Linked DNA regions of Homo sapiens. The protein of the gene in region 3 interacts with the protein of the main gene of each other region in a biochemical or structural test. Each region holds a gene or a part of one and is shown on either strand. Other genes may lie near its edges. The genes, in order: PTPN7, ENKUR, TLK1, NDUFAF2, CAPRIN1, MEIS1 and EGLN2.

Region 1 (4,239 bases), on a different chromosome or scaffold from region 3:
AGTGTGCGTGTTCGTGCATGTGTACGTCTACACGTGTGGTTCACAGCTTCAGGCTGACCCCAGCACCTGAGGCATCTAGGATCTCCCCAGAGCTCTGCTCTCACTGCTCCCCACCCCTTCCCCTGTGCTTCCACCTTCCAGGGCTATGACGGGAAGGAGAAGGTCTACATTGCCACCCAGGGCCCCATGCCCAACACTGTGTCGGACTTCTGGGAGATGGTGTGGCAAGAGGAAGTGTCCCTCATTGTCATGCTCACTCAGCTCCGAGAGGGCAAGGAGGTAGGAGGCAGAGCCACAGTTCATGATGAACCCAGAAAGTGCTATGCCCACCCCACCCCCACCCCACACACAGGGCAGCTCAGAACCAGAGGTTTCCCTGGGAGCCAGCCCCAGCTCATACCTCTCAGAAAGTTCCCTGAGATATAGCCCTGGGAGGCTGTCTATGGCCAAAATACGGGATAGGGTGAGCACTCTGCTTGCAGGTATCAAGCTCAGAAGAGCCAGGCTCCCTGTTGCTGACCTCCCATCCAGTAGGGGTGGAGGATGGGGAGGAGATACCAGCCCCTCTCTGCTGCCCTGTCACCTGCTCCAGCTGACCCTCTTCTGACTCCCAGCTCCCTCCCTCCTAGAAATGTGTCCACTACTGGCCCACAGAAGAGGAAACCTATGGACCCTTCCAGATCCGCATCCAGGACATGAAAGAGTGCCCAGAATACACTGTGCGGCAGCTCACCATCCAGGTACCACCCCCCCGGAGCCAGGCCCAGTGGGAAGTTGGGCCGCCCACAGCATCTCTGGGACTCAGGCTGGCTCTTCACTAGGAGCCAAGGGTTTGCTCTTCTAAACCATCTTAAACCCACATCTATAGCAGAAAGAGAAACTTGAGCACTGTCCTCAGCCTCTAGTCTAATAGGGCAGAGCCAATAAGCCAAATAGGACTACCGGGAAGTACTCACCCATCTGTGTAAATGGTCAGGCGGGGACAGGCAGGATCCAGGAGCAGGGCCAAGGGAAGGAGAGGAGGTTAAAGGAGATGTGGAAGGCCAGGTGTGGCGGCTCATGCCTGTAATCCCAACACTTTGGGAGGCTGAGGGGGGCGGATCACTTGAGGTCAGGAGTTCCAGACCAGCCTGGCCAACATGGTGAAACCTTGTCTGTACTAAAAATTACAGCTGTTTGGAAGGCTAAGACAGGAGAATCACTTGAACCCAGGAGGCAGAGGTTGCAGTGAGCCAAGATTGTGCTACTGCACTCCAGCCTGGGTGACGGAGTGAGACTGTCTGTCTCAAAAAAAAACAAACAAAATAAAACAAAAAAAGAGAAAGAGATGTGGAATAACATGTACACAAGGGCTTTTAAAATGCCTTCTATTATTTTATGGTGTTTTATATTTTTGAAAGCATTCCTCTATCAACTCATTCTCCTCCAAATATCCTGGCAAGTAAACCAGTAAGATATCACTGTTCCCATTTTCCAGGTGAAGAAAATGAGATCAAGGGACTTGCCCAAAGTCATGTGCTTATGGGAAGCAGAGCCAGGGCTTGAATTTGGGTCTCTCCCCTCTCCCAGGACAATGCTCCTTCCCGGGATTTTGAAGGGGGAAGTGGTGGAGAACAATGAGCACGAAAATTGCAACCTAGCTTGCTTTGAGTAGATGACCCCCCCACAGGGTAATTCCAGCCCTTGCCCTCCTCAGGCACCAGAGAAGAAGGTAGACAGTGCCCTCCACCCTGACCTTGGTTCTCATGCCTTGTCTCCAATCCAGTACCAGGAAGAGCGCCGGTCAGTAAAGCACATCCTCTTTTCGGCCTGGCCAGACCATCAGACACCAGAATCAGCTGGGCCCCTGCTGCGCCTAGTGGCAGAGGTGGAGGAGAGCCCGGAGACAGCCGCCCACCCCGGGCCTATCGTAGTCCACTGCAGGTGCGTGGCCCTCCCTTCACTGCAGCCTGTGGACTGTGCTCCCCTCCCCTGCCCCCTGGGTCTCTCCTGGGGAAGGGTCTGAGCAGAAAAGCATCAGGCAAGCCTAGTCCTTACTCAGACATGACTCGCAAGGCCATTCAGCAAGGGCTCTGTTCTTTTTACCTCCTTCACGCAGAACCCAGACATCTGGGCTGGACACCCAGGCCCCATCCATAGAGGGGATGGAATATCAGGAAGATCCCAGTCAGCTGCAGGAGGACATAAACAGGATTCCAGCTGTTGGGGAACTCATTTACTTATTCAACAAATATGTATTGAAAATCCTATTATTGGCCGGGCACGGTGGTTCACACCTATAATCCCAGCACTTTGGGACGCCAGGGCTGGCAGATCACCTGAGGTCAGGAGTTTGAGACCAGCCTGGCCAACATGGTGAAAACCTGTCTCTACTAAAAAATACAAAAATTAGCCAGGCGTGGTAGCACACACTTGTAATCCCAGCTACTTGGGAGGCTGAGGCAGGAGAATTGCTCAAACTCTGGAGGCAGTGAGCCGAGATCACACCACTGCACTCCAGCCTGGGTGACAGAGCGAGACTCCATCTCAAAAAAGGAAAACCTATTTTTGTCAGGCACGGTGTTAGCTGCTAAGGAGACAGCTATGAACCAAGCAGTTTGGTTTCTTCCCAGACAGTTTTATAGGCTGGTGGGAAAGAAGGCAGATTAGGCTGGGTGCAGTGGCTCATGCTTATAATCTCAGCACTTTGGGAGGCTGAGGCGGGAGGATCACCTGAGGTCGGGAGTTCAAGACCAGCCTGACCAACATGGAGAAACCCTGTCTCTACTAAAAATACAAAATTAGCCACACATGGTGGCGCATGCCTGTAATCCCAGTTACTCGGGAGGCTGAGGCAGGAGAATTGCTTGAACCCAGGAGGTGGAGGTTGTGGTGAGCTGAGATCGCACCATGGCATTCCAGGTTGGGCAACAAGAGCAAAACTCTGTCTCAAAAAAAAATTAAATACCACGCAATGTGATGAGAGCTGTGATGGGGATATTATGGGGACCATAGAACCAAGTCTCCTAAACCAGACTTTGACCAGAGAAAGTTTTCCAAGAGAAAGGCCATCTAAGCCAAGCTAAGACCTGAAAGGTGAATTAGCCAAGTGAAGAGAGGGAAGGGAACACGTTCCAGGCAAGTGGAAGAGCACATGCTAAGGCCCAGAGAAGAAATGTGAAAATGGATACACTGCTGGGAGCAGGGTTACAGGTTAGGCCCAGAGGTTGTGTGTGGGGTAATGATGAGAGATGGGTTTGGAAGGCCAGTGAAGGTCAGATGATGAGGGGACTTGGAGGACTGGCTAAGACACTTGGATTTGCCATTTTAAAAGAACACTTTGGCTATAGAGTGAAAAATGGATTGGGCCAGAGTGAGGGGGTGTCGTAGGGGACAAGACTAAAGAAAGGGACCATTTGGGAGTGCATATCCTAAATAAAACAGAGCACAGAGGCAAAAGGCATGACACAGGGGCCTCCCAGCCCACCCACAGGTAGCACTGGGACATGTGCAGGGAGGTCATTAGGGGCTCACGCAAGAGGAAGGGGAGGCCTAGGGGGTTTTGAAATAAAGAGAGGGCACGATAGAGAAAGCAGAACAGAGTGGAGAGAAGACTGTGGGAGGGCGCCAAGGTGGGAAACAGAGGGGCCGGGCGTGGGCTGCGTGGAAGATGAGTCTGAGCTGAGAGGAAGTCAAGGTTAGATAAGGAGGGCTCGAGGGTCAGCACACCCACAAGTGGGAAACTGTCTGTTGGAAACCACTGTAGACTCAGCAGAAGGGAGATCGTCAAAATGTCCACAGGGACCAAAAGGTGGCCTGCAACAGGCTTACAGTAAGGCTGGTAAGAAATGTAAACTCCTCCCATGCCAATTAAAACCTGCCTCCAGCAGGGCCCCCAAGGGGACTGGAAAGCAGAGTACTGCTACCTGCCTCCATCTCCAGAGCCCTATCCCCAAAATATAGCACCTGCAGGTCCCATTTCTTTCTCCATAGTTTGGGGCCTGGCTCTCATATTCCCTGGTCTCCCATGACCTCCCTGTCCCCTCCCTGGCTATCTCCAGTGCAGGGATTGGCCGGACGGGCTGCTTCATCGCCACGCGAATTGGCTGTCAACAGCTGAAAGCCCGAGGAGAAGTGGACATTCTGGGTATTGTGTGCCAACTGCGGCTAGACAGGTGGGTCTGTGGGTGTAAACAAGGCCAACAACGTTAACGGATGGCATCAGTGCCTCTGGGCCCCAGAGTTCTGCTAGGCCCATCA
Region 2 (4,239 bases), on a different chromosome or scaffold from region 3:
TGCTTTATTTTTAATATTAAAAGCATTAGCAGGTGATTTAACTATTATTTTATTGTTGATGAATATTAAACATGCACAGGTGATAGCAGCTTTACCTCATATTAAACAGAATTTGACTAGGAGAAAGTGGAAGTAGAGAATTGGGTAGAAAAATAGAATGGAGTGTGATAAATTGCCCCCAGAATAGACTTTAGATTGGGTTTGGACTATCCAATGAAGCCCACATGCATCACCATCTTAGTCCCTAGCTGTGGGGCTTCAATTATAAACAACAATTATAGGAAAAGTCAAGACCCCAGGGACAGTATCTGACTAATGGGCAAGATTGCCCAGCATCTAAACCCTGTCTGGCCTTTTCTCCAAGAGATGAAAATTACAACCATTACTACCAGTTGTTGAAGCAACTACTGGGCTCATTTTGAGTACGGGCTTTTACTCTCCCAGACCTTTAAGACTAACTGGACTGCAATGAGTTAGATGTAATGGAGGAGACTTCATGAATAAGTGGTAGAACCAGCTTAGGGCCCCATGCTTATTTTAATGCTGTGCTCTTGCTGTACTAAAATTTTTAATTTTTGATCAAGTAGCCTTGTGTTTTTATTTTTTACTGGGCCTCAAAAATTATATACTTGATCCCAGTTATGGAGTCTTTTGAATGATTTCAGGAAAGAAAGCTATCAGGGAAAGGGAGAGTAGATGAAAAGTGATGTGTGACAGGTATGTATGGAAGCAATTTCTTCATAGCCCAAGTATGTCTTCCCAGATGTCTTAGGGCAATAAAGAAAAGAGAGCACCTGGGCAACAAAGCAAGACCCCGTCCGTACAAAAAAATTAAAATAAAAAAAATTAGCTAGGTGTGATGGCATGCACCTGTAGTCTTCACTACTCTGGAGGCTGATGTGGAAGGATCGCTTGAGCCCAAGAGTTCGAAACTGCAGTGAGCTATGATCAAGCCACAGCCTTCTAGCCTGGACAACAAAGTGAGACCCCATCTCAAAAAAAGAAAGAGAGAGAGAGAGAGAGAGAGAGGAAGGAAGGAAGGGAGGGAGAGAGGGAAGGGAGGGGAGGGGAGGGGAGAGGAGAAGAGAAGAGAAGAAAAGAAAAGAAAAGAAAAAAGAAACGAGTCTGTCTCTTCAAAATGTTGGCTTTTTATGTCTGCTGGCATTGAGGAAATAATGCAACATCTCAAGCCCGGCTAGCGATGTACATTTTAACAAAAGTGAAACTACTTCTCTTTATGGCAGTATTTAATGTCCCCAAATCCTCTCTCAACCCATATCTCATGAAAAAAGGTGAGGGCACTATCAGGCAAGATGGCAAGATGGAAGAAGCAAGTGTGGAAATACAACATTCATGCTTAATTCGTGACTTCAGAAGTCTCTTTTGTATCTTCCTCTAGTCTTGGCCTGTTGTGACCCAGCATTCTATGACCAACAATACCATTTGAGAATATAGGAAAATGTTAAAATGGAATTTGATGCTTTCAATGCCTTAGGACCACTGGTATCCCTTGGGTCCTCATATAGCCTCTCTAGGGTTAAACATATGATATAACACAAACATATATATATATATATATAAATCCTTTGTGTCAAATAAGAAAAAAGGAAGAAGCCTATCATTTTGTAAACATTGTAAGGCAAAAGCAAACCCAAAATTTCATTGGCCTTTAGAATAATTCATCAATTCAGGGTATTAGGGCTGGGCACAGTGGCTCATGACTGCAATCCCAGCACTTTGGGAGGCCAAGACAGGAGGACTGCTTTAGCCCAGGAGTACGAGACCAGCCTGAGCAACAAAGTGAGACCCTATCTCTATAAAAAATTTTTTTTAATTAGCTAGGTGTGCTGATGCACATCTGTGGTCCCAGCTATATGGGAGGCTCAGGTGGGAGGATCACCTGAGCCCAGGAAGTTGAGGCTGCAGTGAGCTATGATTGCATCACTGCACTCCAGCCTGGGTGGCAGAGGGAGACCCTGTCTCAAAAAAAGAGGAAAAAAAAAAAAAAAAGGAATGCAGGGTTTTGCAAAAGCTTTAAAAACTCGGTCCAATGAGAGTTCTGGAGGACAGTTCTGGAGAACTAGGAGTCCAACATCAAGATGTCAGAGGATTAGTTGATTTTTGCTTTTCTTTTTTAGGAGTATTTTTGTTTGTTTTTATTTTTGGAGATAGGGTCTATGTTGCACAGGCTGGAGTGTGTGGTGGCTATTCACAGGCATGATGAAAGCACACTGCAGCCTCACACTCCTGGCTTCAAGCAATCCTCCTGCCTCAGCCTCCCAAGTAGCTGGGACTGCAGGCATGCAACACCACACGCAGCAGGGTTGGTTTCTTCTAAAGCATCTCTCATTGGCTTGTAGATGGTTATCTTTTCTCTGTATCTTTACGTGTTCTTCCTTATATGTATGTCTGTGTTCAAATTTCCTCTTCTAAGGACACCAGTCATATTGGATCAGCGCCTTCTCTAATGACCTCATCTTGACTTAATTACCTCTTTAAAGACCTTTCTACAAATACAGTTATATTCTGAGATACTGGGGGTTAGGGCTTCAACATATGAATTCTAGGAGGACATAACTCAGCCCCTAACAAGAGGCTAATCCAGTTCATAGACTTTTAACTGTAAGTATTGGCTTTGCTGATAATAAAAGTTATATAAACTAATAAAAAAGGTCAAATGATGCAGAAATGAATAAAGTCAGTCCTTAGTAATTGTGATGGGGTTAAAATTGGAAAAGGCATTTTCAAGACAGTTGTTGCTTTCAGTTCTTAAAAATAAATTATTTCACATTTTTGCATTGTGGCAAACCATTTGGCTATATTAAAATAGATCAATGGGAATGATCAAACTGAAGAGGCTGTGTAAAAACGGCCAATAAGCAAGAAATACTTCTTCCTTGTATTTATATACTGTTCATATATATATATATACACACACACACACACACACATATATGATCTTTTTTGAGACAGAGTCTCACTCCGTCACCCAGGCTGGAGTACAATGGCATGATCTCGGTTCACTGCAACCTCCGCCTCCCAGGCTGAAGCAATCCTCCCACCTCAGCCTCCTGAGTAGCTGGGACTAAGGGTGCACACTATCATGCTTGGCTAACTTTGCATTTTTTGCAGAGATGGGGTTTCACTGTGTTGCCGAGACTGGTCTCAGACTCCTGAGCTCAAGCGATCTGCCCACGTCACCGTGGGCCACCGTGCCCGGCCTCCTCAACATATTAATTGATTATGTTGCCCTTAATTTATTTCCATTTTAATTACTGACTTTTTTTCTTTTTAAAAAATTATTTTATTGAGGCCTGATTGACAGGTAAAAAGCTGTGCATATTTAATGTCTACAAGTCAATGAGTTTGGGGGTAAGCATAAACTTCTATCTTAAATATTTAAATATATTATGACTGCAACTTCAATATACAAGTGGTGAAATATCTGGATATTATAAATAGCACTGAGTAGCAGTGTTTGTAGTTTAATATTAACAAAGAAATGTTATATTTAACAGAAAAAAACTTTGATCGGAACGTGCCCAAAAAGCCTGCTGTGCCATTGAAGACTGATCATCCTGTCATGGGAATACAGAGTGGAAAAAATTTTATAAATACAAATGCAGCTGATATCATCATGGGAGTGGCTAAAAAGCCTAAACCAATTTATGTTGATAAAAGAACTGGAGACAAGCATGATCTTGAGCCTTCAGGACTAGTTCCAAAGTACATCAATAAAAAGGTAGCCTTGTGGTATATTAATAAGAGGGCTGAAATTCAAATAATTTAAATATGGTGTTCATGATGATCATCTATGTTATCATTATTAGTGCTCTCATTGGACACATTGTCTACTTTGCTGATTCTCATTCTTCTGCAATCTGTGTTTGGTCCAAATGTAATGGGATGAAGTTACAAAGAACCCATAGTAAACAATTCCATATAGTTCAGTAGATAAAAGTTATTGTTTTCCTTAATTTTGATTATTAACATATTTAACAATTTTAATAAACATTCTCTGAAAGATATTTTTGGTTAGTTGGAAATGTCACTAAAAGCAGTCATTACTGTAAATCTAGAAGGAATAAGCTGTCAGATGGTCTTAAGATTTAGTCATTAATTGCAGTAACTTGGCAGCTGAATAAGAAAAATGAAGCAGAATGCAGCTTTAGAGCCATCCATCTCATCAGTGTAGTATAAATAATTCACATTCCTATTTTAACATGAATATATTTATTT
Region 3 (4,239 bases):
ACTCCAGCCTGGCGACAGAGTGAGACTCTGTCTCAGAAAAAAAAAAAATTCTGTAGCTAGAACTCAATAAGCTTTTTCTGTTAGTTTAAGTACATGATTGAAAAATACCAATTTTAAAGTGAAATATTTTATTAGATCTTCAATAAATTGGGAATTGAGAAACTGTTGGAGAACTGGAAGTTAATAACATTTATATGACCAACTACCATAACACAAATAGCCATTTCATGTTAAAGTTTATTGATTTTATTATATGCCTGACATCTGATACCTATACGATGAAGTAACTGCTGCAGTTCTGTAGGATTTTTAATGGAAGCTTTATTTAAAAATACATCTAGAAGTATACTTAAGAATGTAAGGGTTTAAAGCAGCAGTTCTTACCCCTTGATGCTCCTTAGACTCACCAGTTGGGAAGGGTGAAAGTACTAATGCCTGAAACTCTACCCTGAGGGGTTCTGATCAAGTTGATGATGATGTAGGTCTTGGACATTGGTAGTTTTAAAGGCTCTCCCAGATAACTTTAATTTAAGACAGCATTGAGAACTACTGGTGTAGAAACTCGATAAAACCAACACCTGTGATCCTACTGTATTTGACAGTGTCTTTAAAACATCCAGTGTGTCTTTTTCCTGATCCTGTCATATTTACTTTCTCACACCCATTTACCATTTAACCACTATTTTAAATTTTGTATTTGTGATGCCTTGGTGTTTCTTTATGGTTGTATTAAATATGTGCTTACATTCTTCACAACATATTATTTCAGTTGGTTTTTGAACGTTAAGTGAAATTTTCCAGTATGGACCCTTTTGCCCAGCTTGTTTTCAATGAAATATATCAGAGAGTCATCCACTTTGATGAGTATAACTGTAGTTTGTTCATTTCATTGCAATATTGTAAGGTGTTACAAGTATACCATAATTTCTGTATCTTTTCTGCTTTTAGTTGACATTTTATTTCTACTTTTTCTAGTATAAACAGTTCTAAGAACATTCTTTGTACATGTCTTCAGGGCACATATGAAAGAATTTTTCTGTGGTATATGTTTAGGAAAGACATAGCCAGAGTACAGGGCATACGCATTTTCCATTTTACTGTATAATACCAGTTATTTCTCAAGGTTTTTTGGTCTGGTCTTTTTTTTCCCCCGCTAAGTGACAGGGTCTCACTGTGTCGCCCAGGCTAGAGCACAGTGGGGGATCATAGCTCACTGTAGCCTCAAACTCCCGGGTTTAAGCAATATTTCTACCTCAGGCTCCCAAGTAGCTAGGACTACAGGCTCATGCCATCACTCCGGGCTGATTTTTTTTTATTTTGTAGAGCTGGGAGTCTACAGGCTGGTATTGAACTCCTGGCCTCAAGTGATCCTCCCACCTTGGTCTCCCAAAGTGCTGGGGCTATAGGCATGAGCCACCATGCCCAGCTGATCTTTCAATATAAATTATTAGTCTTACTGAAATTGGTTTTGGGTATGGCATGATGTAGGGTTTCATTTCAATTTCTTTCTATATGGATAACCAGTTGTTCATCCCCATTTAATTAAAAGCTCATTCTTATACTGCCAGCTCTATCATCATAAAATCTTGTTTCCAGTATACAGGTGGATCTGTTTCTGTGTTCTGTATCATGTTTCCTTGTTCTGTTTGTGTCTCTACACAAGTACTGCAGCATCTTTTTATCATTGTTGATAAAACAATTTTTATCAGTTGTTTTTGGCTGTTAGTAACAGTGAACATAAATAACAGTACTTCAGATGAGATAGAAGCTTATTTTTCAAGAGAAGAACAGAAGTGGGCAGCTCAGATATTATTACTCCTCAGTATCATAAGGGACCTTGTCATTGTTAGTTCATGGCTTATATCTCAAAGGTCACATCAAGGTTCAATATATCTATTAGGGTCACAATTATATCTGTGTTCTAAGCAGATAACAGGAGGGAGGATGGGAGCAGAGAACACAAAGCACAATTCTGTGTGCAGCCTTCTTGGATATCTCATTGAACAACTTCTGCTTGCATCTCATTAACCATCCTTCGCTCTAAGGGAAGCTGGGAACTGTAGTCATTTGGCTAGGCAGATAGCAATCCAGGATAAAACATTGAATTTCCATTATTAAGGAAGGAGGAGGCTTGGGTGATCATAGTTATGTAGCTTTATGTTAAGTCATGATACATGGTTAAACAGATATCCTCTTCTTCTTTTTGGCTATTTTTGGCCCTTCACAGTCTTAGAGAAATTTTAGAATCAGGTTTCAAGTTGCATATGCATCATACACACACAGTGTTGAGATTTTGTTTGAATTGCTGAGGGTCTATTGGTGCTAAATTCTGTTTCCTCTTCCTTGAAAAACAACTGTGTTGGGTATCTAATTTTAGGTTGGCAATTCTTTTCTCTCAGCACTTTTAAGATTTTGTGCCCTTGTCTTGTGGATTCCACCATGGTTGGCCTAGACTTTTGATTCTCAAAGTGTGATCTTCAGACCAGGAGCATCAGTATTACTGGAGAACTTATTAGAAACGGAAATTTTCAGGTCCTTCCTGAGACCTGATTCAGAAGCTCTGGGAATGGTTCCCAGTAATCTGTTGTAACAAGCCCTATAGGTTATTCTCTTGCCACTGTACTAATCAGACTCATCTTTTGATGTTAGAAGGAAGCCTCTTCTCTGAGCATATGGCCACCTACAAAGTGAACAGAATTAGTATCCTATTGCTAAGGAAGAATGGTGAGGACAGTTGTTGGGTAGGCAACTTGTGTATGTCATTTATAAGTTCAGTGGAGAAAATATTTTGTTAGTTATAAGAGATAGAGGAAAACCCACATTTAATTTGTTAATTATAAGAGATAGAGGAAAACTCACATTTATTTTTAAGTGATAGACACTTTATATACCATATTTTAGTTATTTTTAACAAAGTGAGGTAGATTGTGTTGCTTCTATTTAGAAATAAGAAAGCTGAACTAAAGTTCTTATAACTTAGCCAAAGTTAACCTTAGAGTATGGATTTGAATGTATGGATATGGATACAAATTTCCCTGTATGTACTTTCCACTACACACTTAAGTAACATTTAACAGTATTATCTCATGGTTAAGTAGGCTTTTTTTTTTTCTCGTATCATACTCAGATATTTAATATTATTAGTCCTATCTGTATATAATTTATTTAGAACATTAAAACTATTTCTAAGCTTTTCATATTCCCCAGTCTAGACCTCTTGCATTTTCTACTTATGTCATAGGCTAACTGTGATCTCAGACGGCAAATAGATGAACAACAAAAATTACTTGAAAAATACAAAGAACGATTAAATAAGTGCATATCAATGAGCAAGAAACTTCTTATTGAAAAGGTAGGCTAAAAGTTGAGTAAATTTTCGCTTTCCCTTCATTAGCCCCTTTTGCTTTGTATGCTTTTATAAATTAATGAATACAATTGAGTGATGATTTTTTTTCTCCTTTTCAGAGTACACAAGAAAAGCTGTCAAGCAGAGAGAAGAGTATGCAAGATCGATTACGCCTCGGGCACTTTACAACAGTTAGACATGGCGCTTCATTTACTGAACAATGGACAGATGGTTTTGCATTTCAGAATCTTGTGAAGTTAGTCATTCTTAACATTTAAAAGTTTTTAGTATTCGTTTGGGTTTTCATTACTTTAAAAGATTATAGATTTGTAATTATGCTCTCCAGTTCCTCGCTACTCTGAAATCATAGAATTTAGTACCTTTGAAAGGGATATGAAACCAAGAGTATTACAGTTTTAGCTTAGTAATTTCTTGATTAATTAGCAGTCATCTATAGAATGTAATATATTATTCTAATTCTGACTTTCCGAGATATTAATTGAACCTTTAGCTTTACAGATGATGTTTTGAGAGGGAAATTGTTGAAAATTTAATTTTCACTGGAAGATTTGTGTGTGTGTTTATTTCCTAGGATTTTCCTACTTAGTTTTTTCCCATTCCCCAATCCTTACATGTTAATGTTCAGCACTTGCCTGCTCTCTATTCCTAAGGGAAAAAACTTCTCTTTTGCCTCAGATATAATAACTGATTTATCAGTTAAACTGAACATGTGGCTTTAGCGTTTCTGAGGTAAACTCTATTTATTATTTATTTATTTTAATTTCAACTTTTATTTTAGTTTCAGGGAATATATATGCAGGTTGTTACAGGGGTATATTGCTTGATACTGAGGTTCGGGGTACAATTGAACCCACCACTCAGGTAGTGAGCAT
Region 4 (4,239 bases), on a different chromosome or scaffold from region 3:
TGGTCAACTTGGACTCTCCAAAGCCCGGAGCCTGGAATGGCTATGTCACCGAAACAGCAAAGATGGCGGCCTAACTCTCCCTCTGGGAGCTCTGTCTCAGGAAGTTCTCAAATCTCTGTCAGCCTGAGAACATGGGCAGGGTGGCTGGAGGCCCCAGTGGGGAGCTCCTGCCCGGGGAGGAGGAACAGATCAGGGGGCCACTTTAAAGAAGCAGCCTGGCCACATTTTGGTAGAACAACTGTGCTGTGCTGGGAGATCCCTTTTGTTTCTGGTCGGTTTGGACTCTCCAAAGTTCACAGGTTGGAACTGCAGAGTTATCCAAACAGCAAAGATGGTGGCCCTTCCCTCCCCCAAGGAACTCTGTCCCAGGTAGGGGGCGACACTGTTGCCAGTGGTTGGCTGGAATTCTAAGCCAGTGGGTCTTGTCCTTTGAGGCACTGTGGAAGTGGGGCCTGCGGACCATCACTGCTTAGCCCCCTCGATTCAGCCTTCTTCCTAGGGGTATGTACAGAGGTCCAACCTCCTGCCTTGACAGAGCTGCAGTCACTATTGCCAGGAAGTGTGGAGCCTAAGTATGTAGAGCTGCGCCTCTGTGCGTGCCTGAGTGGCTGCTCTGCCAAGAGTCCACACAGCTCTGTGTCAGACCAAAGGCCCTGGTGGAGTGGGTTTAGGAGGAGATCTCCTGACTCAGGGTTGCAAAGATCCATGGGAGAAGCATGGTTTCCCAGGGTCACACATTTGAATACTCACCACTTCCCTAGGTGGGGGAGGTTCCCCTGGCTCCATGTCGCTCCAGGGTGGGCTGTTGTGCTGTCTTGCTTTTCTTCATTCTCCAGGGGTCGAGTTGTTTCCTTGATTAGTACCAATGCGAGTACCTGGATGTTTCAGTTGAAGGGGCTATATTTACTCGCCCCTTTGGTTGCTCTCCATGAGAGCCACGTACCCTAGCTGTTTCTAGTCGTCCATCTTGGCCTGAATCTAAGTAACTTTAATTTGGGCCATAAAGAGGCAATTGAAAAATTCCCAAAGTCACTTATTTCCTTGACTACACAAAGGAATTGTGGTATTGCTAAGCTGGATTTTCTAATAAAGATCAAAATCCTGATAGAACAAATATTTTTCAAAATATTCATTCAATAATTTTTAAAGTACCACCTCTTTTATAGCATTTAAAAGAGTAAATACCCCAAAAGAGTAGGTACTTAAAATGACAGAAAAATAAATCTCCCATGGGTACCTCCTGCCTTTGACAACCTTACAGACTCACAAGGGAGATTAAAACCTTTGCAAGTTGGCCAGGTGTGGTGGCTCACGCCTGTAATCCCAGGACTTTGGGAGGCTGAGGCGAGCAGATCACGAGGTCAAGAGATCGAGACCATTCTGGCCAACACGGTGAAACCCCGTCTCTACTAAAAATACAAAAATTAGCTGGGCGTGGTGGCGAGTGCCTGTAGTCCCAGCTACTCGGGGGGCTGAGACAGGAGAATTGCTTGAACCAGGGAGTCGGAGGTTGCAGTGAGCCAAGATTGCGTCACTGCACTCCAGCCTGGCAACAGAGTGAGACACCATTGCAAAAAAAAAAAAAAAAAAAAATCTGTACAAGTTTTGGCTAGAAATTGGCCAAATAGGAGTAAAAGCTAATAGAAACAGAATACAGGCTGGGTGCAGTGGCTCACGCCTATAATTCCAGCACTTTGGGAGGCCAAGGTGGGAAGATCACTGAAGGTCAGGAGTTCAAGACCAGCGTGGCCAACATGGTGAAACCCCATCTCTACAAAAAATACAAAAATTAGCTGGGCATGGTAGCGAGCACTTGTAATCTCAGCTACTTGGGAGGCTGATGCCAGAGAATCACTTGAATCCGGGAGACAGAAGTTGCAGTGACCTGAGATCACACCATTGCACTACAGCCTGGGTAACAGAGCGAGACTGTCTCAAAAAAAAAGAAAGAAGGAAACAGAATGCAGAAAGAATAACAAGGGTAGAAATTTAGAAACAGTAGTAGAGAATGGAGAACACTGGAACTGTATTGGAGATACATGTAAGGGATAAGTGCAAGAGAGAATAGAGCAGGGGGAAATGACTGATCCCAAGCCCGCAGTTGAATGTTGCTGTTTCCACCCCCACAAACCATTCAGTGCTGGGCTTTTTATGAAGACAAGTCCTGGTGCTATTACAGATGATCCTTGGTTTGCAGTGAGGTTATGTCCCAATAAGCCTATCATATGTTGAAAATATCATCATGTAGAAAATGCATTTAATACACCTAGACTACTAAACATCATAGCTTAGCCTAGCCTACTTTAAATGTGTTCAGAACACTTACATTAACCTACAGTTGGGCAAAATCATCTAACACAAAGCTTACTTTATAATAAAGTTTTGAATAACTTATGTAATTCATTGAATAAGTACTGAAATGAAAAACAGAATGGTTTCATACCATGGTAAAGTCAAAAATCCTAAGTCAAACTACTGTAAGTCAGTGACAGTCTGTGCCTAAATGAATAAGGCTGGCTGTTAGAGCTGGTCACAAGAGATAGTGGCTGGTGAATGGATAAAGCTAAGACTTTAGAGCCAGTTCAACCAGGGTTTAATTCCCAGTCGCTAATTATATGGCATTAGGAAAGTTTCTTAATCTCTCTGGGCCTCAGTTTCCAAATCTCTAAAATGGGATCAATAATTCTTATTTTTCTAACATGTAGTTAGGGTCACACCTAGCCTGGCTTTCTCTTTCTGGTTTAATATTCTTTGCATGTTGTTCATAAACTTTGAAAGACTGCTTAGTTGAGCGTGGATGGTTTTTAGAGCCAGAGACAGGGTCAGATCTGAATTCAAATACAACCATTACTACTTAATGTATAAATTTGAGGAATTCATTTTATTTCTATTTCTTCAATTTTGTAGTGAAGAGTGAATCAACTGAAATGATAAAACAGTGGCCTTCAAGATCATATTCCCTACAATATATTTTCTCACAGTCTCCTATACAACATTGCAGGCTAAGCAGATATTATTGATCTTTTGTTTTTTGAGTCTTATTTTTAAGAGATTTATTGAATAATAGTAATAATTATACTAATAACTTAGACTTATGTGCCAGGCTTCAAAGTAAACATTTATGTATATTATCTTATATAATTTTCACAACAACCCTGAAGTGTAGATACTTTTATAATTTCCATTTTATAGATGGGAAGCCTGATGCTTAGAAAATTAAATAACTTGCTCCAGGTGACACAGACAGTAAGTGATGAAGCTGGGATTTGAACCCAGAAAATCTGACTTTAGAATCTCATAAGCACTATACTATACTGTCTTCCATGTGATTCTGATAACTTCCCTAAAGGCAGCTGCCCCACTCCCTTCCCATTGCTGCAAAGCATCCAGCACAGTACCCAGGCCCCAGCAGCCACTTAACAAATGTGGGCTCTATCTCTGCAGCCCATCTGCCAAGTGTTAGAGCTAAGGCCTGATGATATTTTTGCTTGCTGGAGCAAATCAGAAAAGAAACCTCTGTAAATGAAAAACTTTTCTAAGTCCCTTCCTTTATAAATTGAACAGTAACTAATTCAAATTTCCAGAATAATATAATTTTGATATTGTCTTGAAGTTTGCTGTATTTTGGTTTGGCTTGTATGCCATAAATATACCCAGTCGAATTTAGATGATTAGGAGGTATGATTTTAAACATATGAAACTGTCCCCTCTTTATCTTCTCTACACTATTATATTCTCTTCATGACACATATCACCACCAACCATATGTTTGTGTGTTTATTTTCTGCAACCCCTTCAGTAGTACATGTGCTACAGTAGAGAAGGGACTTAATCTGTTTTATTCCCTGCTGTATCTCCAGTACCTAAAATAATATGGAGTAGGTACTCAAAAAAATTTGTTTTATGGATAAAAATGTTTGTGTAAATTATGGGAAACTGACATTTAAATATTATTTTTCTTTCTAGCTTGGATTAGAAGAACAAGAAAGACTCCACCTACTATGGAGGTAAGACTACACAAGGAGGATATCATTTAGGAGTATATATTCCCAAGGATATACGAAGCTTCAGAAAAACTATGATGTATTTTCTCAAAGTGTTGATTTTATTCCATCACAGAAAATAACTTAAAACATTTTATAATAAATTAATATATAAACCTATATTATTAATAAAATAATATATGATAAAATAAATGCTCATATTATGGAATATAACAAAATTTGTATAAATTTTAAA
Region 5 (4,239 bases), on a different chromosome or scaffold from region 3:
AACATTTAGATTTGATACTTCCCTGTTTCATCTTCGGTATTGAAGGTTGGAAGTTTTACTTGAATTTCATGGACTTGGGATTTCTTTTTTTTCCCAATCCTTTATTTTGATAAATGTATGTTTTATTATAGGTAATTGGAATAGTAAATGTAGTTACATCAAGAAAGTAACAAAAGTATTTTAAGTGTAAGGTAGCTACATTCAAATGTTGAATGGAATAAGCATGCCCAAGGCCAGTATCTTCTGAGTCTGACACATGATTTAGTTTACCCTGTTGGGTATCTTCTTAAATTTTTTTTTTTTTGAGACGGAGTTTCGATCTTTTTGCCCAGGCTGGAGTACAATGGCGCGATCTCAGCTCACTGCAACCTCCACCTCCCGGGTTCAAGCGATTCTCCTCCCTCAGCCTCCCAAGTAGCTGGGAGTACAGGTGCCTGCCACCACGCCCAGCTAATTTTTTGTATTTTTAGTAGAGACAGGGTTTCACCCTGTTGGCCAGGATTGTCTCGATCTCTTGACCTCCTGATCCGCCCGCCTTGGTCTTCCAAAGTGCTGTTACAGGAGTGAGCCCCTGTGCCCGGCCTCTTTTTAAAATTTTAATGCAGTAAGCAAGCCTGCTGATCTGGCTGCTACTTGAGTTTTTGATTCTTTAGAATTTCTTGGAAATGTTTTTTTCTAGGACAGTAATTGAACATAAAATATTAATGATTGTGAACATTAATAATGTGTTAATACTAATTATGAACATTAATGATTAGTGATATAAAGTGTAGAGACATTAATGACTGAAAGATAACTCCTCAGAGAAGTTAATATAAAGGTAGGTGCTGATTGGCAGCCAATTTAGTTGTGAGGTGGCTGTTAGAATCTAGTGTTCAAGTACTTCTGAAAAAAAAATATAAATCTAGTTTATAAGCCCCTCCTGAGGACTTGAACCATGACTGGTCATTAAATGTGTATAGGTGTATGTGAATTACTATACTCTGTCATACCCTACCCTCAAGTGATTTTGTTATTTTATTTTTATTTTTTGAGATGAATCTCTGTTGCCCAGGCTGGAGTGCCCAGGCTGGAGTGCGGTAGGATGATCTTGGCTTCCTGCAACCTCCACCTCCCGGGTTCAAGTGATCCTCCCGCTTCAGCCTCCTAAGTAGCTGTGATTACAAGTGTGCGCCACCACCCCAGGCAATTTTTTTTTCTTTGAGAAGTCTCGCTCTTGTCCGCCAGGCTGGAGTGCGACGATGTGATCTCGGTTCACTGCAACCTCCGCCTCCTGGGTTCAAGCGATTCTCCTGCCTCGGCCCCCCGCCCAGAGTAGCTGGGGTTACAGGCACCTGCCACCACGCCCAACTAATTTTTGTATTTTTAGTAGAGACAGGTTTTACCTTGTTGGTCAGGTTGGTCTAGAACTCCTGACCTCAGGTGATCCAGCCGCCTCGGCCTCCCAGAGTGCTGGGATTACAGGTGTGAGCCACCATGCCGGGCCTCCCCTAAAGTCATAAAGGAGAAAATAATGTAATTATTACATAGGTTATTAACTAGGCTAATACATACTGAAAGATTGCCGTGTTAATAATGGAGATTCAACAAACTGCACAAAGTAACTTTTTTTTCTGTCTTCTCAGTGTTTTAAGTGGTAGATAGCAGCAAAAAGGTCAAGTTACAGTTAAGTCTTGAGACTTTGATAAGCCACAGACTGAACTCTACCTACATGTTAAGTAGTTAAGTTGGCAGTATTGATGTTGACTTAATTGCTATTAAAACTATATCTTTTGCCCTTTGAAAAACCCAGGGCATTTGGATTTGCCCTAAATTTAAGCACATCTGGTTTTTAGTTTAAATCCTTTTTATATTTAGATGATTTACTTGTGAGAAGACTTAACTGTTTTTAAGTATAAGTGAGCATTTCTAATGCACTAAAATAGGATTGCTTTACAAATCAGTTTTGAATTCCTCTTTAGAAACCCTTGTGGAGTAAAGTGAGGTACTATTTACAATTAGATTTGTTTTGACTTCAGTCCATTTAGCAACTTACATTTGAGCTTTATTTCAATCTTGACCTATTCTTATCGGAGCCTTCTGGACCAAAATGCTTTTTTTATGGATTTTAAAATCAAATATCCTGGCAAAAATGACTATGGATATGTAGTATTGCTTAAATTAAAACAGAGAATTGAAATAATTTTATTGTACTTTAAAAAACAAAGTTGTTTATTTCCTAATAATTTGAGCCATTAAAGAAAAAGCTAAGCATCTGCTCATTGAGAATGCATGCTCTTAATGTTGATGAAATATGATCGTGTTATGTAATGCAACTAAAAGGCTTGGTGGGTTTTTAAATTCAGGCTTATAAAGAGTACATGAATGTTTAGCAAAGAGAAGAAATACAGCTGTGATAATCAAGTGTAAAATCCATTTGCAAATCTTACAGGTAATATTGAATTGAATGATTAACTGCCTAGTTTTCTTTATCAGTTCATTGGTGCTGAACTGGGCCCTAGGCTATGCAAGATATTTCAAAACCAAGTCTTAATTTTAACTGAAGAGAGACCTCATTTGATATTATTAGATGTAATCAGTTGTGATATAGAATAAAGGATGTTTTAATAGATGACATTTAAAATTGTTATATTCTTTGTGAATATAATAGGTTTAGACTCTAGTGACTTTGGTAGGTGAAAGATTAACTAATGATCACTTGCGTAAAATGCAAAAATAGCCTGACAGCTTTTTAACCACTAAGTGACCAAAACTGATAGCCAGAAGTGTAGTGTTTTTAATACTTTTTCCTGAAGGCTTTCTGCACTTCATCTTTGCAGTTAGTAGTATTCTTTAAAAAGAATGCTGTTGTTGTGAGGGTAACATTTCTTTCTAGAACGTTGCAGTGTGTCTGTGCTTAGAATTTTCATTGCAGCTGTTGTGCAGAACTTATGTGTTCAGTGTTTTAAAATAAAAACATTCTTAACTATTTTATAAGTAAAATCTTTCCTTGAGGCTATTACCTGAAGCCTTCTTTGACATTTAAGATCTCTTGATGTGTTTGCTTTTCCATGGGTTGCAAGAACTATTCTTCTGCAATGCAGAGGGCAAGATTATTTTGCATTCACCTTGTCATAGAAAAAAGCTGTAATGCTTAATTTGTTTCCCTTTGCTTGACTGTGTGTGTTTGTATGTGTAGCACTGGGAAGTATTTAAAGCTGTGAATTCCCCCAAGTGATAATGGGTACCTTTTTCTAGGGTGAGAGTCGAAGCCTAAGTATTACATTGAGAATGTATTGTTTTAACGTGGCCAAATTAGTGTACTCTAGGATACTACCCATGTGGCAGATATTTGAGAATGCATTTTGTGTGACTTACAGATTAAGCATACAATTTGCCAAAATTTTATGTAATTAATTTCCTAGTTTACATTTAGGGCTAGATGAAGACTAGTACTGTTTCATCTTTTAGAAAAACTAACACTTTTCCTTTAGTAAAAGTGTTAATTTTTGCAATACTTTTGCAAAAGGTTAAACTTATAGCAATTTTGTCATAGCTATAATCTTACACTGTTATAAAATTTAGAGGATTTTTAATTTTTATTTATTATCATTATTTGAGACAGTTTTGCTCTCGTTGCCCAGGCTGGAGTGTAATGGCATGACCTCGGCTCACTACAACCTCCCCCTCCCAGGTTCAAGCTATTCTCCTGCCTTAGCCTCCTGAGTAGCTGGGATTACAGGCGCCCGCCACCACGCCCGGCTAATTTTTTATATTTTTAGTAGAGATGGGATTTCACCATGTTGGCCAGGCTGGTCTCAAAACGCCTGACCTGAAGTGATCCACCCACTTCAGCCTCCAAAGTGTTGGGATTATAGGCATGAGCCACCATGTCCGGCCTAAGAGTTTTTTTTTAGAGCTTAAACCACCTTAGAATTTAGTCCAGTTCATTTTATAGAAGACAAAATTGAGATGTTTATATGGAATGACTTAGGTTGGAATGGGTGATTTCCAAAATTCTCGCAGTTTTTTTTGAAACAGAATCTTGCTCTGTCGCCCAGGACTGGAGTGCAGTGGTGCAATCTCAGCTCACTGCAACCTCTGCCTCCTGGGTTCAAGTGATTCTCATGCCTCAGCCTCCCGAGTAGCTGGGATTACAGGTGCATGCCACCACGCCCAGCTAATTTTTGTATTTTTAGTAGAGACGGGGTTTTGCCATGTTGACCAGGCTGGTCTCAAACTCCTGACCTCAAGTGATCT
Region 6 (3,984 bases), about 100 Mb from region 3:
CAAAACCATGTTCCCTTAATCACAGGGTTCTCTGGCTTTTATAGGATTGTCATAGCCAGGACCACACTATTGCTTTTTCATAACATTTTCTTTTTGTTTCTTTCTTTTGAATTTCTTACAGGGCTGCAAAGTATGCCAGGGGAGTATGTAGCCCGGGGTGGTCCAATGGGTGTGAGTATGGGACAGCCAAGTTATACCCAACCCCAGATGCCCCCCCATCCTGCTCAGCTGCGTCATGGGCCCCCCATGCATACGTACATTCCTGGACACCCTCACCACCCAACAGTGATGATGCATGGAGGACCGCCCCACCCTGGAATGCCAATGTCAGCATCAAGCCCCACAGTTCTTAATACAGGAGACCCAACAATGAGTGGACAAGTCATGGACATTCATGCTCAGTAGCTTAAGGGAATATGCATTGTCTGCAATGGTGACTGATTTCAAATCATGTTTTTTCTGCAATGACTGTGGAGTTCCATTCTTGGCATCTACTCTGGACCAAGGAGCATCCCTAATTCTTCATAGGGACCTTTAAAAAGCAGGAAATACCAACTGAAGTCAATTTGGGGGACATGCTAAATAACTATATAAGACATTAAGAGAACAAAGAGTGAAATATTGTAAATGCTATTATACTGTTATCCATATTACGTTGTTTCTTATAGATTTTTTAAAAAAAATGTGAAATTTTTCCACACTATGTGTGTTGTTTCCATAGCTCTTCACTTCCTCCAGAAGCCTCCTTACATTAAAAAGCCTTACAGTTATCCTGCAAGGGACAGGAAGGTCTGATTTGCAGGATTTTTAGAGCATTAAAATAACTATCAGGCAGAAGAATCTTTCTTCTCGCCTAGGATTTCAGCCATGCGCGCGCTCTCTCTCTTTCTCTCTCTTTTCCTCTCTCTCCCTCTTTCTAGCCTGGGGCTTGAATTTGCATGTCTAATTCATTTACTCACCATATTTGAATTGGCCTGAACAGATGTAAATCGGGAAGGATGGGAAAAACTGCAGTCATCAACAATGATTAATCAGCTGTTGCAGGCAGTGTCTTAAGGAGACTGGTAGGAGGAGGCATGGAAACCAAAAGGCCGTGTGTTTAGAAGCCTAATTGTCACATCAAGCATCATTGTCCCCATGCAACAACCACCACCTTATACATCACTTCCTGTTTTAAGCAGCTCTAAAACATAGACTGAAGATTTATTTTTAATATGTTGACTTTATTTCTGAGCAAAGCATCGGTCATGTGTGTATTTTTTCATAGTCCCACCTTGGAGCATTTATGTAGACATTGTAAATAAATTTTGTGCAAAAAGGACTGGAAAAATGAACTGTATTATTGCAATTTTTTTTTGTAAAAGTAGCAGTTTGGTATGAGTTGGCATGCATACAAGATTTACTAAGTGGGATAAGCTAATTATACTTTTTGTTGTGGATAAACAAATGCTTGTTGATAGCCTTTTTCTATCAAGAAACCAAGGAGCTAATTATTAATAACAATCATTGCACACTGAGTCTTAGCGTTTCTGATGGAAACAGTTTGGATTGTATAATAACGCCAAGCCCAGTTGTAGTCGTTTGAGTGCAGTAATGAAATCTGAATCTAAAATAAAAACAAGATTATTTTTGTCATGCTGACTCCACTGCTTGAAAAATTTGTTTACTGCCCCCCAGATTTTTAAAGATTAATACAGTAAATATAAAAATTAATTTTGGCTCCCTAAGCCATATATGTATTTGACAATTTTAACCGCAAAGTAAGTTGTTTAATAATAACCACTGATTTCTTTAAGCTGACTTAATGAACTCCTAATATCAGCAAATTTGAGGCCTAAAGGCACTAAACTAACTCTAGACTCAGAATTACATCCAACAGAATTACTCATCTAATATCAGTGAAATTATTCTTGCACATAAAGGCAAACCTAAGTACAAAGTTAAGTCTTTTACTAAAGGATGTTACCTAGGATGAGCAGTATATGTTTATTAGGAAATTAACTACATGAATTGAAGAGACCAGACTTCAAAATCTAATTTTTATAAATATGCTCTATGTTCTCATTGGATAAAACTGGTTATTAACCAATTTTCCAGAACAGCTGTACAAGATTTCTGCATGGCAGCCGGCTAAATGGTAGAAAATAATATGTTTAAGCTGGAATAGCTTATAATTTTATTTAAATAAAATTGCTGCTATAAAAAGTGCTTCCCAAAGCTAAGGAAAATATACAAATATTTTAATTAAGGCAAATTCGTTTTAAAAAATAAGCCTTTCAGTAGTGATTGCTTTGTAAACAAAGGATGGGTCGGAGGAGAGAGAGCCTTAAACTCAAGTCTGACATTCAGGCCCAAGTCACCCTATAAACCGGCCCTTAGCAATTCTATTTTCTATTCGAAAAGAGAAACCAGCTGTGGGTTGGCTTTACTAGGTGATGTGTGATTGACTGACTCACCTGCTGGAGTAGCAATGCATTCTCACCTTTTGCTGATGGGGCCTTGTTTCTAAACACGTGGATGCGCAGAGAGCAAGGCTCAGCCTACTGCAGCCATCTCTGGCAGCGCTTCTACCCCTCCCCAGCCCATAGATGGGATTGTTTAAATCTCCCTTGTTGACCTAGTGGCAATTCTTCCTCTACCTAAATAGTCGATGTGAGTGAAATCATTCTCTTTTGATAGGTGGTTGCTAGCAGTTAACAACCATTTATTTACTTTAACAATTAATAATAAACTTTATAAACTGTCTATTTGCTCCTCCTCTCCAGTACATGCCCGGGTGAGTTGGTTATTTTCAGCCTTTATTCCTGAGGAGGCTCAGGATGGGTGGGGGAGGGAAAGAAAGGGGAGGAGGTGTGGTGGGGAGAGGGAGAGAGGCGAGAGGGAGAGACAGAGAGAAAGAGAGAGGCGCTAGGGGAGGGAGGTTTACAAGTGAAGAGTAGTTAGGGAATATGGTGACTCTGAAGAATCGAGATCAGCAGTGTCCAGGAATTAGAAAAAATAAACTGCTATTTCCGTGAGTTCCCCCTCTGTGAGCCATTTAGGTGAGAGCCTCGCTCTTCGCAGTTCCTTTCTTCCCCTGCCTCGATGCCCTCCCCTCTTAATGCTATTTTAGCTTTTCCTCTTGTAAATTTCAGAGCCAGCTCGAAGGTTATTGAGGACACTTATCCGAAAGAGGCAAATAATAGAGGTGCTGAGAGTGTTTTTGATGTTTCCTAAAAGGCAAAAACAAAACGCCCTCCTCTAAACAAGGGCACAAAATTGTACCTGGTTTTTATTTTTATTTGGTGGTGGGGGGGTGGGGGGGTGGGGGGGGGGTGGAAAGGGGGCTGGCTCTGGCTGAATGAGACTACTTTTTAATATGATTTAAATTTTTTTTTCAAAAAATTAAAAATATTTTACCCTATCATATTTAATCAGCTGTAATTATAACACATTCAAAATGAATAATATGCCTTGACAGTATTTTTATTGTTATTGTTCATTGCATGATGTTCGACTGCTTTAGAAGCACAGGAAAGAGAAGTAAACGCGCTACAAATGGGGAATTACCCTCGTTTAGCATTAAAATTCATTTAGATAAAATTGCCACAAACATTTAAATGGGAAGATTAGTTCCCCCTCACGCCTTATTGCACTCGCTCAATGGTTCCGTTAAGAACATTTTACACGTTGGAAATTCCGTCTTCTCAGACGGCTTGCTGTTTCCTAGTTACCCACATTCAAAGCAAAGGCAGCAGCAAAGGCAGCCGCAGCAGCAGCAGCAGGGAAAAAAAAAAAGTTTTGGCAACTGGTCTGCAATTCATCCGCTGCTCGCCCCAGTCTCCCCTCCGCCCGCTGCAGTCTGCCCCCACCCCTTCCCCTTCCCCACCCCTACCTCTTTCCCCTCATTATGTAATTCGCAGAGTCCAGTCCTCGAGGAAACACGTTGCCTAGTTGTGTAGTATTTATATACAATGTTAAAATACAAAGAAAGACCCTAAAGTC
Region 7 (4,111 bases), on a different chromosome or scaffold from region 3:
GATCAGCCAGAATCAGCAGGTGTGCGCTGTGCAGACCAAAACACAATCAGTTACCCCTGGAGCAGGAAGGCAGCTCTGCCTTCCCTTAGGCTTTTTGTTGTTGTTGTTTGAGACGGAGTCTGGCTCTGTCATTCAGGCTAGAATGCAGTGGCATGATCTTGGCTCACTGCAACCTCCACTTCCTGGGTTCAAGCGATTGTCCTGCCTCAGCCTCCTGAGTACCTGGTATTACAGGCACCCACCACCACGCCTGGCTAATTTTTGTATTTTTAGTAGAGACAGGTTTCGCCATGTTGGCCAGGCTGGTCTCGAACTTCTGACCTCAAGTGATCTGTCCTCAGCCTCCCAGAGTGCTGGGATTACAGGCGTGAGCTACTTGCCCGGCCTATTCCCTTGGGCTTTTAAAAAGCGTCTTGGATGGAGGTGGTGCAGGTGCTCACCAAGCCCGCAGGTAACCCAAGTTGCATGTATCCCCAGGGCACTTTTGTGATTCCCCTGCTTGTGACTGCACACCGGGACCCCACTCAATTCAAAGACCCAGACTGCTTCAACCCTACCAACTTCCTGGACAAGGGCAAGTTCCAGGGCAATGATGCTTTCATGCCCTTTGCCTCAGGTGCAGGCAGAGGAGGAAGGGGACCAGCCTGGACTGGCTCTGGGGTACCTGGTGCTCACTGTGCACCTGTGTACCCGGCAAAGCAGATGTGCCTGGGCACAGGCCTGGCCCACTCGGGTATCTTCCTATTCCTTACGGCCACCTTACAGAGGTTCTGCCTGCTCCCTGTGGTACGCCCTGGCACCATCAACCTCACCTGCAGTGCACTGGCCTGGGCAGTGTCCCCCCAGACTTCCAGCTCCAGCCAGTGGCCTGCTGAGGTCAGGCTCCACTATGGTGGGCTCACTGGCCCTCAAACCTCCATACCCTCCTCGGTCAATAAAGGCCCTAAATTGCAGATGGAGTCAGATGTGTGCAGCTCTGAGGTAAACTTTTATTTCTTGGCTGACAGGACTTCCACACCCATGCTCCTCCTGGCACCTTTTACTCTGCCCAAGCAGTGGCAGCCCAGTCCAAAAGGTGCCTGCCATGGCCAAAGGGGTTGGGGAGTCACTTCACATTCCAGGCTGGAGGAGTGAGAGGACTTGGGGGTACTCCTCCCACCCCATTGCCAGCAAGAGGCCATGACTCACCTCAACCCCAAGTCCTGCATCCTGGTGGGAAGTGACAATGCCTCCTCCCAGCTCTCCATACCTAATGGGGTCATGACCAGACAGGGTAGGACCCAGGCCCCCAGCTTCAGTTGGTAACGGTGGCCTCCACGGCTGCCCCCTGTCCAGGTGACAACCCCAGCCCCCATGATGGGGCAGCAAAGGTCTCTTCTCCTCCTTGGTCCTCAGCAACAGACAGAGCCCTCCACACCAGGCAGGACAGAGGCAAAGTCAGAAGCAGCAGCGGTGGCAGGGAAGGAGCAGCCAGCACAGGCCCAGGGCTCTCCTGAAGTCATTTAAGCTGTCTGCCATGCGGCTCTGGGACTGGCCACTAGGTGGGCGTAGGCGGCTGTGATACAGGTACTTGGACACCTTTCTGTCCTGATGCTGGGGGTGAGAGGGGACAGGAGACAGTGAGTCATCAGAAGGACAAAGAAGCCAAGGGAAACCTGGGGAGATGGGGAGAGGACCAGGAAGAAATGGGGCTCCTGTTGGGGTACCAGGAGAGTGGGCTAAGGAAGGTGGGCAGAGATGAAGAAAAATGAGTGGTGGGATTTAACAAGAGGCTGATGAGGGGGATGGGGTGGCATCAGGCCCAAGAGGGCCCACAGAATAGGAAGGACTGAAGGGAGGGAAGCAGGTACCTAGCTGATACTTGTCTTTGGCTGCTGCCCGCTCCTTGGCATCAAAATACCAGACAGTGATGGCGTACCTGGAGACCAGGGTGGTTGGACATTAGTTTTCTGCAATTCCAGCTACCATATCCACACACACTAGGCGGCCATCCTTTTGAGCCACCCGGTTCTGCTCCCACCTAGGCCCCCTCTCAATACTTCGTCGCTCCCTAGTCACTCTGAGGCTCTGACAGGACATTGTCACAGGGGGAGCACCTGGGTGCGTCTCCAGAAGTACAGGTCATACCTGGTGGCATAGGCTGGCTTCACCTCGTGGGGGTTCCGCCGGTCAGACCAGAAAATGAGCAACCGGTCAAAGAGTGGCTCGATGTTGGCTACCACGGGCCGGCCCTCAGGGAAGATCTGCAGCAGGCCGCCATGCACCTGGGGGCAGGCCAAAGGATGAGGCTAGCTGGTACGGCCAGGAGCCGCTGCCTCCCACGGTGCCCCGGGAGCCCACTAGGAGGCGCAGCGTCTGCCTGCATCACTCCCTCCCACCCCTCGGGCTCTCAAAGTGAATGACAACCCAGAGACTGCATCACCATGGAGATGGGCAGGAAGCTACTAAAGACAGGAAAAGGGGGAAAGTGTTCATTACAAGGCCGGGTGGGGCTGGGCAGACAGCACCATTCCCGGAAAGAGGGGAGTTCCCACCACACAGTCCGCTAGAGAGGAGGAGGTGCCATTTCCCAGGAAGAGCCGGCAGATCGCACTGCCCGCTGTGTGTTGAGAAGAGAAACAGGAGAATGCCAGAATCTGGGCTGAGAGTGGAAAATGGAGTGGACGCACGCCACCCCCGCCCCAGCCCTAGCCCCAGCGCCACCCTCACCCTCACCCTCACCCCTACCTTAACGTCCCAGTTCTGATTCAGGTAATAGATACAGGTGATGCAGCGCCCATCGCCGTGGGGATTGTCAACGTGCCTTACGTACCCGAGCCCGTTGCCTGGGTAACACGCCACCATGGCCTGGCAGGGATGGAGGGAGGTAGGTTTACTGGGGCTAGGCAGGCACATCTTAGAGAAGCAGCCATGAATTACCTATTTTCCCACCCCTCCTTGCCCCATCTTCCCCATGACTCCTTGGGTCAAGGGTTCCAAGCTCCTGCCCCAAAAGACTTTCTTTTTCAGCCAAAATCCCATCCCCAAGTCTATCAGAAACCTCAGCTCCTGGGCCTCAAGAGCCCACTCCCTCCCAACACACATACCTGGGGCCTGGCACCCAGCTAGGGCTCAATTAGTAACAGAGTTTGATTTGTTTCAAGATACCCCAAACCCCACCTCAGCCATTTCAGTAGAATAATACCAATTTAAACATTTTCAGGTGTGCAAGGAGGTGGCCTCACAGCCCTAGACCAGGAATTCTTACCCTTGGCTGTGGAGTGGAGCCCCCTGGGGAGCTCTGAGGTTCTGAAGTACCTGGCCTAAGGAAGGGCCTGAAATTGGTAAAGCTTCCCAGGTAATTCTACCATGCAGCAATGTTAAGAACTGCTGCCCTGGACTACAAAGAATCCCCACTAAATTATCTGTCCCATAGACCTCCGAACAGGAGCCAAAAGCTACAGTCTGAATAGAAAGACCTAATTCCAACTCCAAGGATAATTTGCTGGGTAACCCTAGCCAGTTCCAACACCTGAATGGGCCTCAACTGCCTGATGTGTACAGCAGGGGTAATAAACACTGCTGTTTACAGCGGTAGCAATTAATCTCTCTGAGAACATAACTTGGGAGGTTCTGGAGCCCCAACTCCTGGAGATCTAACAGGACTCATTGCAGGGCTTGGTTTCTCTGTCTACAGGGTTCTTTCCTCTGCCTGACAGTTGCCACTCCCCTGACCCAGCCCTACAATGCTGTGGCCAGGGCCCCGGGATGTTTGTCATCAGGGAGCTGGCAGAAAGGTGGCTGAGAGGTAAAGGAAATGGCCCAGCCACTTCTGCAGACACAATTCCCTGGTTCAAGTCTCAGTGCTGCCACATGAGCTGTGGCATCAGGCAGGTGACTTCCTGGTCTCAGGTTCCTCATCCATGGATCCAATGGAGCTCACAGCTATTTCACAGGTTGTTGTGGAACAAGTGAACAAGATAACAAGTGTCTGGGAAGACAGCCAGCACAGTGCCTGCCACATGGAGAACTGGAGCACAGGCTGAAATGCCATTTAAAAATTTTAAAAGGTCCCTGTCCCACCCTCTGCCCAAAGTCACTGCAGTGGCAAGATGAGGTAGCACACAAAAAG

The links.
Region 1: the proteins of TLK1 (region 3) and PTPN7 form a complex in vitro, tested with the Homo sapiens proteins (one large-scale study listed by BioGRID).
Region 2: the proteins of TLK1 (region 3) and ENKUR form a complex in vitro, tested with the Homo sapiens proteins (one large-scale study listed by BioGRID).
Region 4: the proteins of TLK1 (region 3) and NDUFAF2 form a complex in vitro, tested with the Homo sapiens proteins (one large-scale study listed by BioGRID).
Region 5: the proteins of TLK1 (region 3) and CAPRIN1 form a complex in vitro, tested with the Homo sapiens proteins (one large-scale study listed by BioGRID).
Region 6: the proteins of TLK1 (region 3) and MEIS1 form a complex in vitro, tested with the Homo sapiens proteins (one large-scale study listed by BioGRID).
Region 7: the proteins of TLK1 (region 3) and EGLN2 form a complex in vitro, tested with the Homo sapiens proteins (one large-scale study listed by BioGRID).

The regions. Positions count from the first base shown.
Region 1 is NC_000001.11:202,150,226-202,154,464, reverse strand, and holds part of PTPN7 (tyrosine-protein phosphatase non-receptor type 7), read left to right. Parts: intron 1-141; coding exon 142-279; intron 280-614; coding exon of another isoform or gene 615-629; coding exon 630-740; intron 741-1,765; coding exon 1,766-1,923; intron 1,924-4,040; coding exon 4,041-4,154; intron 4,155-4,239. UniProt on the Homo sapiens protein: Protein phosphatase that acts preferentially on tyrosine-phosphorylated MAPK1. Plays a role in the regulation of T and B-lymphocyte development and signal transduction.
Region 2 is NC_000010.11:24,995,149-24,999,387, reverse strand, and holds part of ENKUR (enkurin), read left to right. Parts: intron 1-3,518; coding exon 3,519-3,742; intron 3,743-4,239. UniProt on the Homo sapiens protein: Adapter that functions to localize a calcium-sensitive signal transduction machinery in sperm to a calcium-permeable ion channel.
Region 3 is NC_000002.12:171,049,177-171,053,415, reverse strand, and holds part of TLK1 (serine/threonine-protein kinase tousled-like 1), read left to right. Parts: intron 1-3,241; coding exon 3,242-3,352; intron 3,353-3,465; coding exon 3,466-3,602; intron 3,603-4,239. UniProt on the Homo sapiens protein: Rapidly and transiently inhibited by phosphorylation following the generation of DNA double-stranded breaks during S-phase. This is cell cycle checkpoint and ATM-pathway dependent and appears to regulate processes involved in chromatin assembly.
Region 4 is NC_000005.10:61,095,026-61,099,264, forward strand, and holds part of NDUFAF2 (NADH dehydrogenase [ubiquinone] 1 alpha subcomplex assembly factor 2), read left to right. Parts: intron 1-3,966; coding exon 3,967-4,007; intron 4,008-4,239. UniProt on the Homo sapiens protein: Acts as a molecular chaperone for mitochondrial complex I assembly. Complex I functions in the transfer of electrons from NADH to the respiratory chain. The immediate electron acceptor for the enzyme is believed to be ubiquinone.
Region 5 is NC_000011.10:34,054,141-34,058,379, forward strand, and holds part of CAPRIN1 (caprin-1), read left to right. Parts: intron 1-4,239. UniProt on the Homo sapiens protein: mRNA-binding protein that acts as a regulator of mRNAs transport, translation and/or stability, and which is involved in neurogenesis, synaptic plasticity in neurons and cell proliferation and migration in multiple cell types.
Region 6 is NC_000002.12:66,571,125-66,575,108, forward strand, and holds the end of MEIS1 (homeobox protein Meis1), read left to right. Parts: intron 1-121; 3' UTR 122-2,745; downstream 2,746-3,984. UniProt on the Homo sapiens protein: Acts as a transcriptional regulator of PAX6. Acts as a transcriptional activator of PF4 in complex with PBX1 or PBX2. Required for hematopoiesis, megakaryocyte lineage development and vascular patterning.
Region 7 is NC_000019.10:40,805,291-40,809,401, reverse strand, and holds the end of EGLN2 (prolyl hydroxylase EGLN2), read right to left. Parts: intron 2,848-4,111; coding exon 2,728-2,847; intron 2,265-2,727; coding exon 2,128-2,264; intron 1,919-2,127; coding exon 1,851-1,918; intron 1,594-1,850; coding exon 1,538-1,593; 3' UTR 968-1,537; downstream 1-967. UniProt on the Homo sapiens protein: Prolyl hydroxylase that mediates hydroxylation of proline residues in target proteins, such as ATF4, IKBKB, CEP192 and HIF1A. Target proteins are preferentially recognized via a LXXLAP motif.